2 linked regions of the Homo sapiens genome follow. The protein of the gene in region 2 purifies or fractionates together with the protein of the main gene of each other region. This does not show direct contact. Each region holds a gene or a part of one and is shown on either strand. Other genes may lie near its edges.

The links. Proteins that work in one complex are often made in the same cells at the same time.
Region 1: the proteins of SLC22A5 (region 2) and HMGCS1 purify together in Homo sapiens (affinity purification with mass spectrometry; 2 studies listed by BioGRID and IntAct, with this or other methods). This does not show direct contact.

The regions. Positions count from the first base shown.
Region 1 is NC_000005.10:43,296,403-43,303,427, forward strand, and holds part of HMGCS1 (hydroxymethylglutaryl-CoA synthase, cytoplasmic), read right to left. Parts: intron 2,574-7,025; 5' UTR 2,564-2,573; coding exon 2,116-2,563; intron 1,733-2,115; coding exon 1,607-1,732; intron 765-1,606; coding exon 600-764; intron 1-599. UniProt on the Homo sapiens protein: Catalyzes the condensation of acetyl-CoA with acetoacetyl-CoA to form HMG-CoA, which is converted by HMG-CoA reductase (HMGCR) into mevalonate, a precursor for cholesterol synthesis.
Region 2 is NC_000005.10:132,365,818-132,372,721, reverse strand, and holds the start of SLC22A5 (organic cation/carnitine transporter 2), read right to left. Parts: upstream 3,013-6,904; 5' UTR 2,750-3,012; coding exon 2,357-2,749; intron 1-2,356. UniProt on the Homo sapiens protein: Sodium-ion dependent, high affinity carnitine transporter. Involved in the active cellular uptake of carnitine. Transports one sodium ion with one molecule of carnitine.

The DNA.
Region 1 (7,025 bases), about 89 Mb from region 2:
TAAATTCACTGATATTTGTCATTGAATATGATTTTTAACCCCTTCTCATAACCTCTAAAAAGCAAAGTTGGACTACAGAAAAAGTATACTTTATGTAATAATGTGTTATGATAGCATTAACTCAAATACTGTCCTTTCAGTGCCTCAACAAATTTCCAGATTAATGATAACAGTAAAAAAACAAATACAAATTCACAGGTCAAGTGCAAAAAGATTATTTTTGGGGTAAGATCACTTTAGTAATTCATTTTCATTAGCTTTCCCTGAATCACAGCTGTAGTCCAAAACCTTGTTAAAATACCTCTCTCAAAAGATGAACAAAATTCAACTTACCTTCTTTTCTCCACTTTGATTTTCTTACAAGGGGTAAACCGACCTAAATATTTTTGCAGAGATACACCTCAGTTCCAAAGTTTACCTCTTCTAGTAAATTACACTTTCCCAGAAACTATGGGAAAATGTTGTTTGGTGAATGAGGAATTAATGGTAAAAGGATATTAAATGAAGAATGCCCACAAAGTAGTTGCCTACCAAAGATACCTAGTACATTAGACTGCTCTCAACTCATACCAAAACCAAGGAAAATGGGTAAAACTTACCTTTCTGCCACTGGGCATGGATCTTTTTGCAGTAGACAGAATAGCAGCGGTCTAATGCACTGAGGTAGCACTGTATGGAGAGTTTTCCATCTACTATAGGATATTCAGATAGCATATCAGGCTTGTAAAAATCATAGGCATGTTGCATATGTGTCCCACGAAGCCCTATTAGAACCAAAAAGGAAGATGTCTATATATTTCTGCTTCTTGATGTCTGTATGTTAATAAGTATACTGCATTATCTAAGGACCTTCCTTAACTATCTGATCAATTCTCACCACTTACAGTAGAGAAATCGCAAGCTGAAGCCAATATAAGTGAAATGATACATAACAGTATCCATGGACAGTCCTAAGACTCCTTTGGTATACAACTTTCCATGTCAGTTTCATAACTCTAACAGTTCACAGTTACTCTACTACACTGAAGACAAATTAAAATTGCCAGTGACTATCAGCAAGTTACTATTTATCATTTGAACCCTACATTAACCCACTTCTCTGTAAAGTGGGGATGACACCACCTACCTCATAAAACTGCTATGAAGATTAAATACAGGCCAGGCATGGTGGCTTACGCCTGTAATCCCAGCACTTTGGGAGGTTGAGGGGGGCGGATCACCTGAGGTCAGGAATTCGATGCCAGCCTGGCTAACATGGTGAAACCCTGTTACTAAAAATACAAAAAATTAGCCAGGCATGGTGGTGTGTGCCTGCAATCCCAGCTACTCAGGAGGCTGAGGCAGGAGAATCACTTGAACCTGGGGGCAGAGGTTGCAGTGAGCCGAGATCGTGCCATTGCACTCCAGCTTGGGCAACAAGAGTGAAACTCGGTCTCAAAAAAAAAAAAAAAGAAAAAAAAACATAAATATGATAACACACATAAAGCTCTTAGCAAGTAGTACCTGCATTTAATGACCATTAAGTAAGCGACAGCTCCTACTTCTATTTTCAAATTTCTCAGCATATTGTGCTAAAAAAAACAAAAATGCTTTCCCAAGCACTTACCTCGTTCAAAAATTAAAGGAGCATTTGGCCCAATTAGCAGAGCTACTGCTCCAACTCCACCTGTAGGTCTAGCATTTCCTGTGGCATATACAGCAATATCTCCTGCAACTACCAGGGCATACCGTCCTGAAAAATATTTTTTGTTATTTCACAAGAAGGAATTCAACACTATAACCAAACATGGAAACTGAAGTCTGTTATATTTTCCCCAGAATATGCTTTTCCCTTCTTTGATAAAGAAAGAAAATGCTCTAATTTTTTTTTAAAATTCATCTGCCAAGGCTCTGTCATCCATCTGACTAAATTTTGAATAGACCATTTGTCCTACAAGATAAGATAACCAATTCACAATTCGGATAATGACAGACAGGTAAAATATCTTTCTTAATATATCCAAACAAGGACAAATTACAAAAGTTTGCGTATTGCATTAATTAAAGTGTCATCTGGGTCTATTGAACCTTAGAAAAAAATTTTGGGGGACGGCGGGGAATAGGCATGTAACATACCATCCCAAGAGCTGGACTCAATCCAGTTAACAGCATTGAAGACAGCAGCTGTGCCTCCATAGCATGCATTAGTTGTGTCGATTCCTTCTATATCTGTATTCCCAGACTCTTCAAACAGCTGCATCAAATTAGTCTTCACAGACTTTGATTTGTCGATGATTGTCTCTGTTCCAACTTCCAGCCGCCCAATGCAATCATAGGAAAGGTTATTTCTCTCCATAAGATTCTGAACCACAGTCATGCAAAGAGAGTTAATATCTTCTCTATCTGTGCAGAAGCCCATCTTGGCCTGGCCCAAGCCAATGGTATACTTTCCAGCATCTACACCATCATATTTTTCCAACTCTGCTTGATCAACATATTGAGAAGGAAAATAGATCTCAAGGGCAACAATTCCCACATCTTTTGGCCAGCAAGCTTCTGCATTCAAAGGAAGTGATCCAGGCATGGTGAAAGAGCTTTAGAAAGGAGAAACAGAAAAAAAATTGTTTTAGGTTATAAGTTGCTGGTTTTCAACTTTGAAATTGAGAAATAGATATTAAGAGTTTAGCAATCACCTGAAGTATTAGTTTCTTTAAGTTTAGTATTTAGGGCACTCAATTGTGTACATGTGAAGTAGCAATTATTATATGAATGGAATATTATCATTTAAAATTATAGTCTTTTAGAAAGGCTTCCATTTTATTCAAAATTGGGCATCTCTAGATTTAAAACATGATTATTAGAGGTAAACAACACTCAAATAAGATTTTCTACATTGTAAAGAACTGTAAGATAAAATACAATGATAATTTAGAAATATGGCTGACAAATCAGAATTACCTGACCACCCGAAAGTTTTAATAAATTAGGCCGGGCGTGGTGGCTCATGCCTGTAATCTCAGCACTTTGGGAGGCTGAGGCAGGCGGATCACAAGGTCAGGAGATCGAGACCATCCTGGCTAACATGGTGAAACCCCGTCTCTACTAAAAATACAAAAGAATTAGCCGGGCGTGGTGGCAGATGCCTGTAGCCCCAGCTACTCAGGAGGCTGAGGCAGGAGAATGGCGTGAACCCGGGAGGAGGAGCTTGCAGTGAGCAGAGATCATGTTACTGCACTCCAGCCTGGGTGACAGAGCAAGACTCCGTCTCAAAAAAAAAAAAAGAAAAAGTAAAAATCAATCAATCAATCAATCAATCAATCATGTATTCATCATAGATAAACCAGTCCTCTTTTAAAAAAGGGACTAAAAAGTAGTGTCTAGATTTACTTACCAATAGCAACAAAAATCACTAGCTACTCAAGACCATTGTTGGGCATTTAACTTACCAGAGCTTCAGCTTCTTTAACAGGTTGTATTAGTCAGGAAAAGAAAAATTACTATAGATATTTCAAACAGAGGGGAGTTTTAATGCAGGGAAATAGCTACAAACTTGTTGGCTGGGCTGGAAGAACAAAGCGGAAAAGGTGGTTCTCTGATCCCATGAGCCTGCACTCCTGCTGAAGCTGCTGGAGCTACAGTACTAGTACCTCTGCTGCTGAGCTGGAACCCAGAGACCCAAAGTCCCACTGTTGGTGCTGCCACTGACAAGAACAAGAGAGGTACCTTCTTCCCACCTTCTAATATTTCTTGAGTACTTCCAATATTTCTTGAGTACTTCCATCAGCCCTCTAACCAGAACCCAGATGGCATAAGAACCAATGAAATGTAATTGTGAGGCTTTGAAGAGTGGCACAGCTCCTCAGTTTTAGAGAAAGAATCCTAAAACCTAAAATTCTACAACTCAATTTCCTTTTTAGGTATGACATCATTGGATGGTGCTACTTAGGTGGCAGAATTTCATTGACCCAAAGGTCTTGGGTTATGAGTTACCTGGGCCGAACTGATTCATGAACATTCTGTATGACTTGTTTGTCAACCCATCACTAATTTGATACTTAAAAATGAAAGTCAAATCCTGTATTTATGTCATTTGTCCTCTGCTGCTCTGCAATTAAAGGTCTTAAGGGGCCAGGTGCAGTGGATCATGCCTATAATCCTAGCACTCTGGGAGGCTGAGGCAGGAGGATCACTTGAGCCCAGGAGTTCAAGACCAGCCTAGGCAACATAGCAAGACTCTGTCTCAACAAAAAAAATTTTTTTAAAATGAGCTGAGCATGGTGGTGCATGCCTGCAGTCCCAGCTACTAGGGAGGCTGAGGTAGCAGGATCACTTGAGCCCAGGAGTACAAGGGTGTAGTGAGCTGTGATTGCACCACTGCACTCCAGCCTGGGTGATGGTGAGACCTTGTCTATAGAGAAAGGAAAAAAAAAAAAAAAAAAGAAAAGACTTAAGGGATACCAGTTGTATCTTCCTTCCAAACAGAAGAATCTTTTTTTTTTCTCATTCATCCAACCAATGCCAACATGTTACATACTAAACATTAGGGATGCTTAATGGGAGACTTCCTTATCCTCTCGAATATTCACTATTTTATGGGACAATAAGAGAAAAACACATAATAATAAACAGGTAACAACATTGAGAACCACATTATATAATGGAGAACTACCTAACCCAGCCTGGTGGTAGGGCAAGGAGTGTTAGGAAAAGCATCCTGGTTATAGGGGCCTGACTTGAGCCCCAGGAATGGGTAGGAGTAAGCAGTAAAGCACTGAAGAAATGGAGGGTAGTAGATTTTCAACAGAGTGGACACCATGAAGAAAGGCAAGCTACAAGGAATTACAAAAAACTTTACTTGTCTATTGGAATGAAATGTGAGCTGAGTGGATCAGGTAAATAATAGATTAGAATAACTAGGTAAGGGTTAGGTCATGAAGGTTCTGGTATGCTGATGTTGAGGGCTTCAAATTTATCATGAAGATAGTAAGAAGCCATCGGAGAGTTTAAGGAATAACATGGTGATATTAGTTGTCAGGTCAGTGTTTTTCCAACTCCGGAATCAATTTAGTGGATGGCAAGCACACATTTAAAAAAATGAAACAGAAAAGAATACAAGATATAAGATTGCATGGCACAGGGTAAATGTAAAGATTTTTCTTGAATCAACCTTTTGTTTTAATTATTCATACATATATAAAGTATACATAAGTTGCAATACAAAGTGTATTTTTACTGGGGGCCACAGTCAAAAAAGTTTGACAGCCACTGTTTTATCCTCACTAATGCTGTTTTACAGTCACTGGTGCTGTGAATGGATGAGTTAGGAAGCTGACATGGCAGTCCAGATAAGACATGGGTCATGAACTAGAGCATTTACTACATGTGGAGCGAAGAGGAACAGCCTCCAAAAACATGGAAAAAGCAAAAGAACTGGCAGAAACTGTAACTGACTAGATGTTAGGGAAAGAAGAAAATGTATACAATGACTTCCAGATTTCCATCCTCAAGTGTTTTATGACTTGACAAGCACACTGTCAGATACACTAAATGAACAGAGATCCTCTCCACTTTGTTCTACTCCACTTCTTCCACACAAACCCTGTTTACTTTATGCCCTTTTCCCTGGTAAGTGGAGTTCAGCCAAACCAGCGCTCAGAACCACCACTGAGGAAGTGAAGAGATCAAGCTCAGACAAGCTGCTTTCGTTCCTGTCATTTCACCAACATCTCCATACATTTTTCCAGTTTGGTTTTCCTATCTACTTCCTTCCTATATGGGACTTAACACAAGATTCTTAACTTTCATGTATGCAGTTTATACTAGAAAACACACAAAGAGAACTACACTGAAGTCAACATTAAGGATAAATGCTAAATACTACCCAATCTTTCCCCATCTTACAACTACTTACCTACATAACCCTCCCTCTACCCTTTACTCTCAAATTATTATATTCTTTATCCAAAAACATTTAGTGCTTTCTTCAACAACCCACCTCGTGCTTCTGCTTATTGAAATCCTTTATAGCCCTAGATCACATAGGTCACATTTTACCCATGAAACCTTTCTAAATTACCTTTTGCATTTCTTGCCTATCCTTCTACATCATCATACTTCGTCAATTAAAGTCACTTTTTTGGGTAACATTTCAGAAATTGGGATTCCTCTTACAATTGCTATCAGACAGAAGCCAATTATGATGTTGTCATTGCTTACACATGGGAAAATAACAAAACTGCCAGCATGACATTTGCATATGACAGTCAACAGCCTGAAAGAAATTCCCAGAAATGATACTGGAGCATTCATTTCACCCTCTAGGAACCAAATGGACTGGGAAGGAAGTAGAAGATGGGGAATCCCTAAGCAGCAGTCAAAGTAGGCTGGCTTTGCATAATTGCAAAGCTGAAGGCCAGCACCAAAACCTTCGCATTCTTTTTTGGGATCTTGAAAGGAATGCTACATCACCAATTCTCTTGGCGGCACAGAGGATGTTTAACGGAAAATTACAGGTATTAACAACTCTGACTCCAAAAACAATTCAGAAGGCAGACTCTAAATATGTGAAATTTAGCAATTCCTTATGTGTTTTTTCACTTGTGTTTTCCATCTTATTGAATGTGCAAGTGACATATGACAAAAATCTATGTCTAACTCTAAAAGAGCTCTTTAAAAAATTCTAAGTAATCAAAAAAGCATTGTATCTTAATTTAATTGGCAATGAAGCATCTTAAATTTATTACATCCTAGATTCTTTAGATAGTACGAAATATAGCATTCAGTGCTTCAACTGTGTTACTTCCCAAATATCTGCCTGAATTATGGATTGAAATGTCTGGGTTTCCCCACCAAATTCATATGTTGAAGCCTTAACTCTCAATGTGATGGCATTTGGAGATGGGGCCTTTGGAAAATAATCAGGTTTAGATGAGGTCATGAGAATGGGGCCCTCATGATGGGATCAGTGCTCTTATAAGAAGATAAAACGAGAGCTTGCTCATGCTGTCATACTCTCTCTATGCCATGTGAGGACACGGGCAATCCAG
Region 2 (6,904 bases):
AGCATTCCAGTAGCCCAAAACAAAGATCTAAGCATTAATCTGGCCTCCCTGCAAAGACTGACAACATATAAGTAGGTGAAAGGGCACATAACTCCTTTGAAACTGCTAAGACAGCTAAATAAATAGTCTAAATATTAAAAAACAAAAGGCTGACATTGGCAGCAAGATAAGGTCAGACCCCCTGGCACAGCTGGCCTTTGGGAGCTCATCAATGCCACCATCACTCAGCCCAATGTGGGATGGAGGCAGCAAAGCAGGAACAAGTGACTAGAGTAAGCCGGGGAACCCTCAGGGGTCAATGTAAAACTCCAAGAGATGCCATGTGCTTCTTCTTGCTTCACTACTTCCCTCTTCTTTAGGCAGCCCCAAGTAGAATTTGTAGGGATTCCTGTGTCATGTTCCCCTCTGTGGCCTCTGCCTGCAACCTCAGGGACAGCCTCTGCTTTCATAGTACTCACTGGCTTCCGGGAAGGTAACACACCCACCTGTGAGGCTAGGACCCAGGATTTGTGGCAACTGAAGGTTCCAATTTCCTGTGGATTCATGGGCCAGAAAGCACAGTTGGCTACCTCCAAGGAGTGCCTCTTTTGTCAAGCCATGATGCCTCTGGACACTGAAGCTATGTCACTAGCTAAGAAATCCCAGTGGGGCTCCGGTCACACTCCCACTACATATATGTGGAGAAAGCAGGTCCAAATGCTGGGGACATCAAATTTCCAAAAAGAAAAAACACACACATGCACACACACTTGGATCTCCCAGGGTAGCTCTCAGACTCCATTGAAGGGTGATGACGCCAAGAAGCAACACAGTTGGGATCTCCAGAGCCCCTGTAAGCCCCTCTGAGGCTCCAGGAGGGGAGGCTCAGCACCAACATCCAGCAGGGCTTGAAGCTGTGCCAGGGCCTGTGGCACTCTCCCTCTCTATGAACTCTCCCCTCTCTGTGAACTCCGCCGTCCTGCTGGGTGGTTTCTTGCTGCTGCACTGGGGCCTTCAGCTCACTATTATGCTGAGCTGAACACCCTAGGCTCACGGAGAGGCCTCCTCTTCTGGGAAGCCTTCTCTAACCTGCGAATTGGTCATCTGCACATTTAGTGAGCCTATCTATCAATGAGGGCTATTCACTGGCTACTTACTCAATGCTGCTGAAACTTCAGGGAGCTAGAGTGCCAGTGTCTAAAAAAGACACAAAACACATACATCATTAACATCATGTTCCTACATCCAGCTCCAACAACTGCTCCAACAGGTTCGGAGGGGACAGACAAAACCACCCAGAGGGAAAATCCAAGGGGATGAGAAATGAGAAAGGCTCCCCTACACCCTATGACCTAAGGCTGTATGCTTTAACTAAATCTGGCCGACAGCCTTGCCTCATAATACCTGAGAAAATATTCCAGGTCAACAAGTCACCCTGAACCCATCTTCAGATGAATGGATCTTAAAGAGTGACAACTGACGGCCTGGCGTGGTGGCTCACGGTTGTAATCCCAGCTTTGGAGGCAGAAGCAGGCAGATCACGAGGTCAAGAGATCGAGACCATCCTGGCCAACACGGTGAAACCCCGTCTCTACTAAAAACACAAAAATTAGCTGGGCGTCGTGGCTCACAGCTACTCGGAGACTGAGGCAGGAGAATCACTTGAGCCCGGAAGGCGAAGATTGCAGTGAGCCAAGAACGCACGACTGCGAAGGTTGCAGTGAGCCAAGAACACACGACTGCGCTCCAGCCTGGTGACAGAGGGAGACTCTGTCTCAAAAAAAAAAAAGACTGACAACTGACCATGGGAAAAGGCAAACAATTACTTACAGGGCATGACCAGATTGTCGTTTTTGGGTTGTGGACGGTAGGGGAAGGAGTAACTAGAGGAAAAAGGGAAGAGGCAGTTGTATACACATGCTTTATTTAACTTTTAAAAGTTCAGGAAAGAGAAGTATTTCTTCTCTTCTAAAAAGAAATCAAGAGACTAGAGGAAAAACGGGATAGCCCCTGGCCCAAGTCCTGGCTCTGCTACTTACCACCCCCAACCCCAACTAGAGTAAGTCCTGGACACACAGGGCCATAGAGCATCGCCCAGGGACCGCCAGGACCTTCCTGGTACCCTCTTCAAAGTGGCCATCAGGACGGGAGGCCAGACTGACCACCTGTGCAGGGAGGAGCACACTGTGGCTGGAGGTCACCTCGTGAAGCGTTCCCAAGCCACCTGGCTGGAGGGTCTCCATCGCTAGGGTGTTGACCGTTGGGGGAGGGGGAGTGACAGCGTCCAGTGCGCATCTGGGAGAGAGGAGCTCGGGTTCAAGGACCGCGACAGGTCCTCCGAGCCCTGGTCTCAGCCCCAGCAGGGGCCGGCACCCACCTCGGTCACAATGGTGGACAGGTAGACGTCCTGACTGAACTCCCAGCCATCCAGACAGCTCTCCTGCTCCAGCTGCCCCAGGTCCACGTCGCGCCCCGGCTCCAGCCCAAGCGCCGAGAAGTTGGCGATGGTGGCGAGCCGGTAGCGGCGGCAGCTGTGGGGCACCTCGCGGCCGTCCCGCAGCCGCAGTGGGACAGTGTGGTTGCGCCAGGCGCTGCTCAGGTTCGCGGCGTCCGGCACCCGGCAGCGGTGCTCCGGGGTCGCTATCAGGAACACGGAGGACAGGCCGGTGAAGCCATTGGGGATGATGCTGGCGCTGAGCAGGAAGAAGATGAGGCGCTGGAAGGGCCCCCACTCGCCCAGGAAGGCGGTCACCTCGTCGTAGTCCCGCATGCCGCCCTCAGAGGCCCACAGAGCGCGGCCTGGGGTCGGGGAACGCGGCGGGCTTTGCGCGTGCGCGCGGGGCACCCGCCGCCGACCAGGCAAGCCAGGCAGCAGGCGACCCAAGACCGTCCGCGGAGGGTAGGCTCGCGAGCTGACACCGCCGCCTTGGTCCTGCCGCGGCTGGCCTTACATAGGGCGCACGACCAGGGAAGGTTGCGGGCCTGGGCCGCAAGGCGCGCCCCGCTGGCAGGCAGAGCGGCGCCGGCGAAGGCGGAGCTGGGGCGGGACGCGAGGGCGCGGGGCGGGCCGGGAGTGCACCTGAGGCCCGGGCGGGGCCTGTCCTGGGGACCTGGCGAGGCCCGGCCTCTGCCAGCCAAGCCTGCTGGGGACGACCGAGGTAGCCCGGGCTCGGCTTAGGAAGGCAGCGGGACTCGAGGCCTTGGGGTCCGAGTCCGAACTCGCTCCTCTAGCGCCGGGCGGGGAGCGAGTGGGAGAGCGGCCGCGAAGCTCCAGTGTTGAAAACGCACCCCTCCCAGCTTTTTGCAAGGCCTACTTGGGGGCGGAGGTAAGGAGAAAGTCACTGGCCCAGGGTCTCACAGATAGTTGCTCTTGACACCGCCTAATCTTATAAGAGGGACGGGGATTATTTTGAACCTGGGACTGTTAACTACCCTAGTAGAGAGGCTGGGAGCTATGACTTTTCATTCTAGTCCAGATGCCCTTTCCACATTTTCGTCTGTAACAAGCCATTTTGTTCATGCAGATGTAAAAATTTAACTTCACGATTAACGATCCTAGCCTAGGGTTAAATATTCCCCACAGATTAGTTATTTCCGTGCAGAGTTTATTCAGAAGCTAACTGGAAAAAAAAAAAAAGCAGCGAGGTGATTCTAAAGCAGCAATGTTCCATAGGATAAGGAGCTACATTTGTTATGTTAACTTTTCTAGTAGCCATATTAATAAAATTGCCAGATTTAGCAAATAAAAATATAGGACTCCTAGTTAAATTTGAATTTCAGATATAGAATGAATAATTTTTAAATATTATGTCCCAAGCAGGAATATATAAAATAAAAATGTAACTGGTTGTCCTGTATTTTATTGGGCAATGCTGCATATTTAAAAAGTAAAAATAAAAGATGAAATTAACTTTAATGGTATATTTAATCAAGTATATCCAGAACATGATCATTTCATCATATAATCAATATAGAAATTATTGATATTTTACATTGTTATATGTAAATCATTGATCTTTTTTTCCCCTCCTCATACTAAATCTTAAGAATTCAGTGTGTTTCACAGGTTCTCAGGATTTGAAAAAAAAAAAAAAAGGAATCCAGTGTGTATTTTACAGCACATTTCAATTTGGACTAGCCACACTTTTTATTTTTTAATATTTATTTATTCATTTATTTATTGGAGACACGGTCCCACTGTGTCACCCAGGCTAGAGTGCAGTGGCACAATCATAGCTCACCGCAGCCCTGAACTCCTAAGCTTAAGTGGGCCTCCTGCCTCAGCCTGCTGAGTAGCTAGGACTACAGGCACATGCCACCGTGCCCAGCTAATTTTTTTATTTTTTTTATTTTACAGAGACAAGGCATCCCTGTGTTGCCCAGGCTGGTCTCAGACTCCTGGGTTTAAGCAATCCTCCCACCTCAGCCTCCCAAAATGCTGAATTACAGACGTGAGCCACTATGCCTGGCCAGACTCATTTTTTAAGTGCTCAGTAGCCACATGTAGCTATTGGTTATCTTATTGGACAGCACCATTCCTAAGGCCTTTAAGAATTTGGGCTGCTAAACTTAACAATGCAAGATATTCCTTTTTAAAATAGTAGTGGCTTAGTGATAGAAACAGAACTAAGTGTATATTTTTACAATATAATGTGTTGAGTAAAGAATATTTAATAGTCACTATATTATGAGTTGAAAATAAAGCTACAGAAAGGGAACCTAACCTGGCCAGCAGATTTTTAACAAGGAAATCTAAACATTTGCATAAAGCATAATAGACTTAAAAAAATTATGATAAAGATGTTATCACAGGACTTGTTTGTTTCTTTATACTTACTATTCACTATTCTTACTTCCTGAAGATGGATGGTTATACCTTCAGCAATGTACTTAAATCCTTCTAACATCTTATGTGAAGTTATAGTTCTTATCTAGAACTAACTGAAAAAGAAAGCAAAGCTTCTTGAAAATAAACTCCTTTTTTGTGTGCTAAAATATTATTTTAATGCTTCAAAAGAAATGAAAGCTTTTATGAGAAGAATGTTGACCTCTGTCCAGACCAAACAAGATGAAGAAGTCTTATTTTAACATTTGAGAAATATCAGTTGGGCATCAGATAACATTCCTGAAAGGGACTGAAAACAATGCAGTATACTACAAAAGAAGCTGCATATCCTTAGGAAGAAAAGAAACTATTTGTCATAGATGGCTTGTCCACATGCGCAAAGCAGAGAGCAACCTAAGATGGTGCCGTCCAGTTCCAGGTGCACTGTGATTACTATCTGAATGCCATTACTATTTAAATTGCATTTTTTTTTTGAGACAGGGTCTCCTTCTGTCACCCAGGCTGGAGTGCAGTGAGGTGGTCTTGGCTCACTGCAGCCTCAACCTCCTGGGCTCAAGCAATCCTCCCACCTGAGCCTTCCAAGTGCCTGGGACTACAGCCACGCGCCGCTACACCCAGCTATTTTTTTTGTATTTTTGGTAGAGACAGGGTTTTGCCATTTTGGCCAAGCTGGTCTCAAATTCCTGACCTCAAGTGATCCCCCCGTCTTGGCCTCCCAAAGTACTGGGATTATAGGTAGGAGCCACCATACCCAGCCTTAAATTTCATCTTTTAAAAGAGAAAGAGAGCTTAGAATCTTAATCAGTTACCTGAGGCCCTTTATCCTGCAATATTCTGAATTGGGATGTTCCTATTTTACATATTAAAAAATGTAAAACTGATTTATATGGTAGATAACCCTACAGTTCAGGGCTAGAACTTTAGATTAAATGCATTCATACCCTGGCAGATGTGGTAGCTTGCCTCCAAGATGGCACCCAATGAATGATCCCTGTACCAGGATTGGTCTATGTGACCAAAAGCATACAGCATTAGTGATGATACTTATATCACTTGGGTAATTACATTATAAAAGATGTCCATCATGGGTGTTCTTTTCCCTTTCTCTTGCTCAGAGACAAGCAAGCTGTCATGTTATAAGCAGCCCTTTGAGGGGTCCATGTGATGTCAAGGAATGAAGTCTCTAGCCAACATTTAATGAGGAACTGAGGCCCACCAACAACCTTGAGTGAGCTTGGAAGTAGCTCCTTCAGCATCAGTTGGGTGTCGAGATGACTACTGACAGCTTGACTGCAACTTCATGAGAGTCTTCTGGACCAGAACCACTCAGTTAAGTGGCTCCCAGATTCCTGATCCTCAGAAACTCTGAGAAATAATGAATGTTGGTTGTTTTAAAATGGTAAATTTTGAGGTATTATGTTATGTGGCAATAGATAGCTAATATATAAATTATTTGAATCAAACAATACGTTAAATTAAAGCTCAGAAGAATAAACATCTGTAATTCCTTAATTTGTTTTCCCTTCTATTCTACAGAATAGAATTTTACAGATGAACCTTGTAGTTACTTGTGCAATAAGAGACAGTATGTTGTATTGATTAAGTGCAGAGCCTCTGGATGTATGATAGAAGAAAGACCAATATTCAATTGCTTTCTTCTTCAATTCCAAGCTTGTGAGCTTGAGCAAATTTTAAAAGTGTTTTAAGCCTCAGTTTCCTGGGATGGTAGTGCTTAGCTCGAGCTCCTAGCATATATTAACTACAAACTAAATATTAGCTATAATTATTAGTTTTACTTTGATTATTGACTCTAAATAAATACCTTAAGAACTTTGTGTTCTCCACAGATTTGGATATGTCTGGACGTTATGTAGGCTGGAGTAGTCAGCAATTACTTGCCTGAGGAAGGGAAGGCCTCCTCCTTTAAGAAAAGAATAGGCTGGGTGCGGTGGCTCATACTTGTAATCCCAGCATTTTGGGAGGCTGAGGAGGGTGGATCACCTGAGGTCAGGAGTTTGAGACCAGCCTAAGGAACATGGTGAAACCCTGTCTCTACTAAAAATACAAAAATTAGCCAAT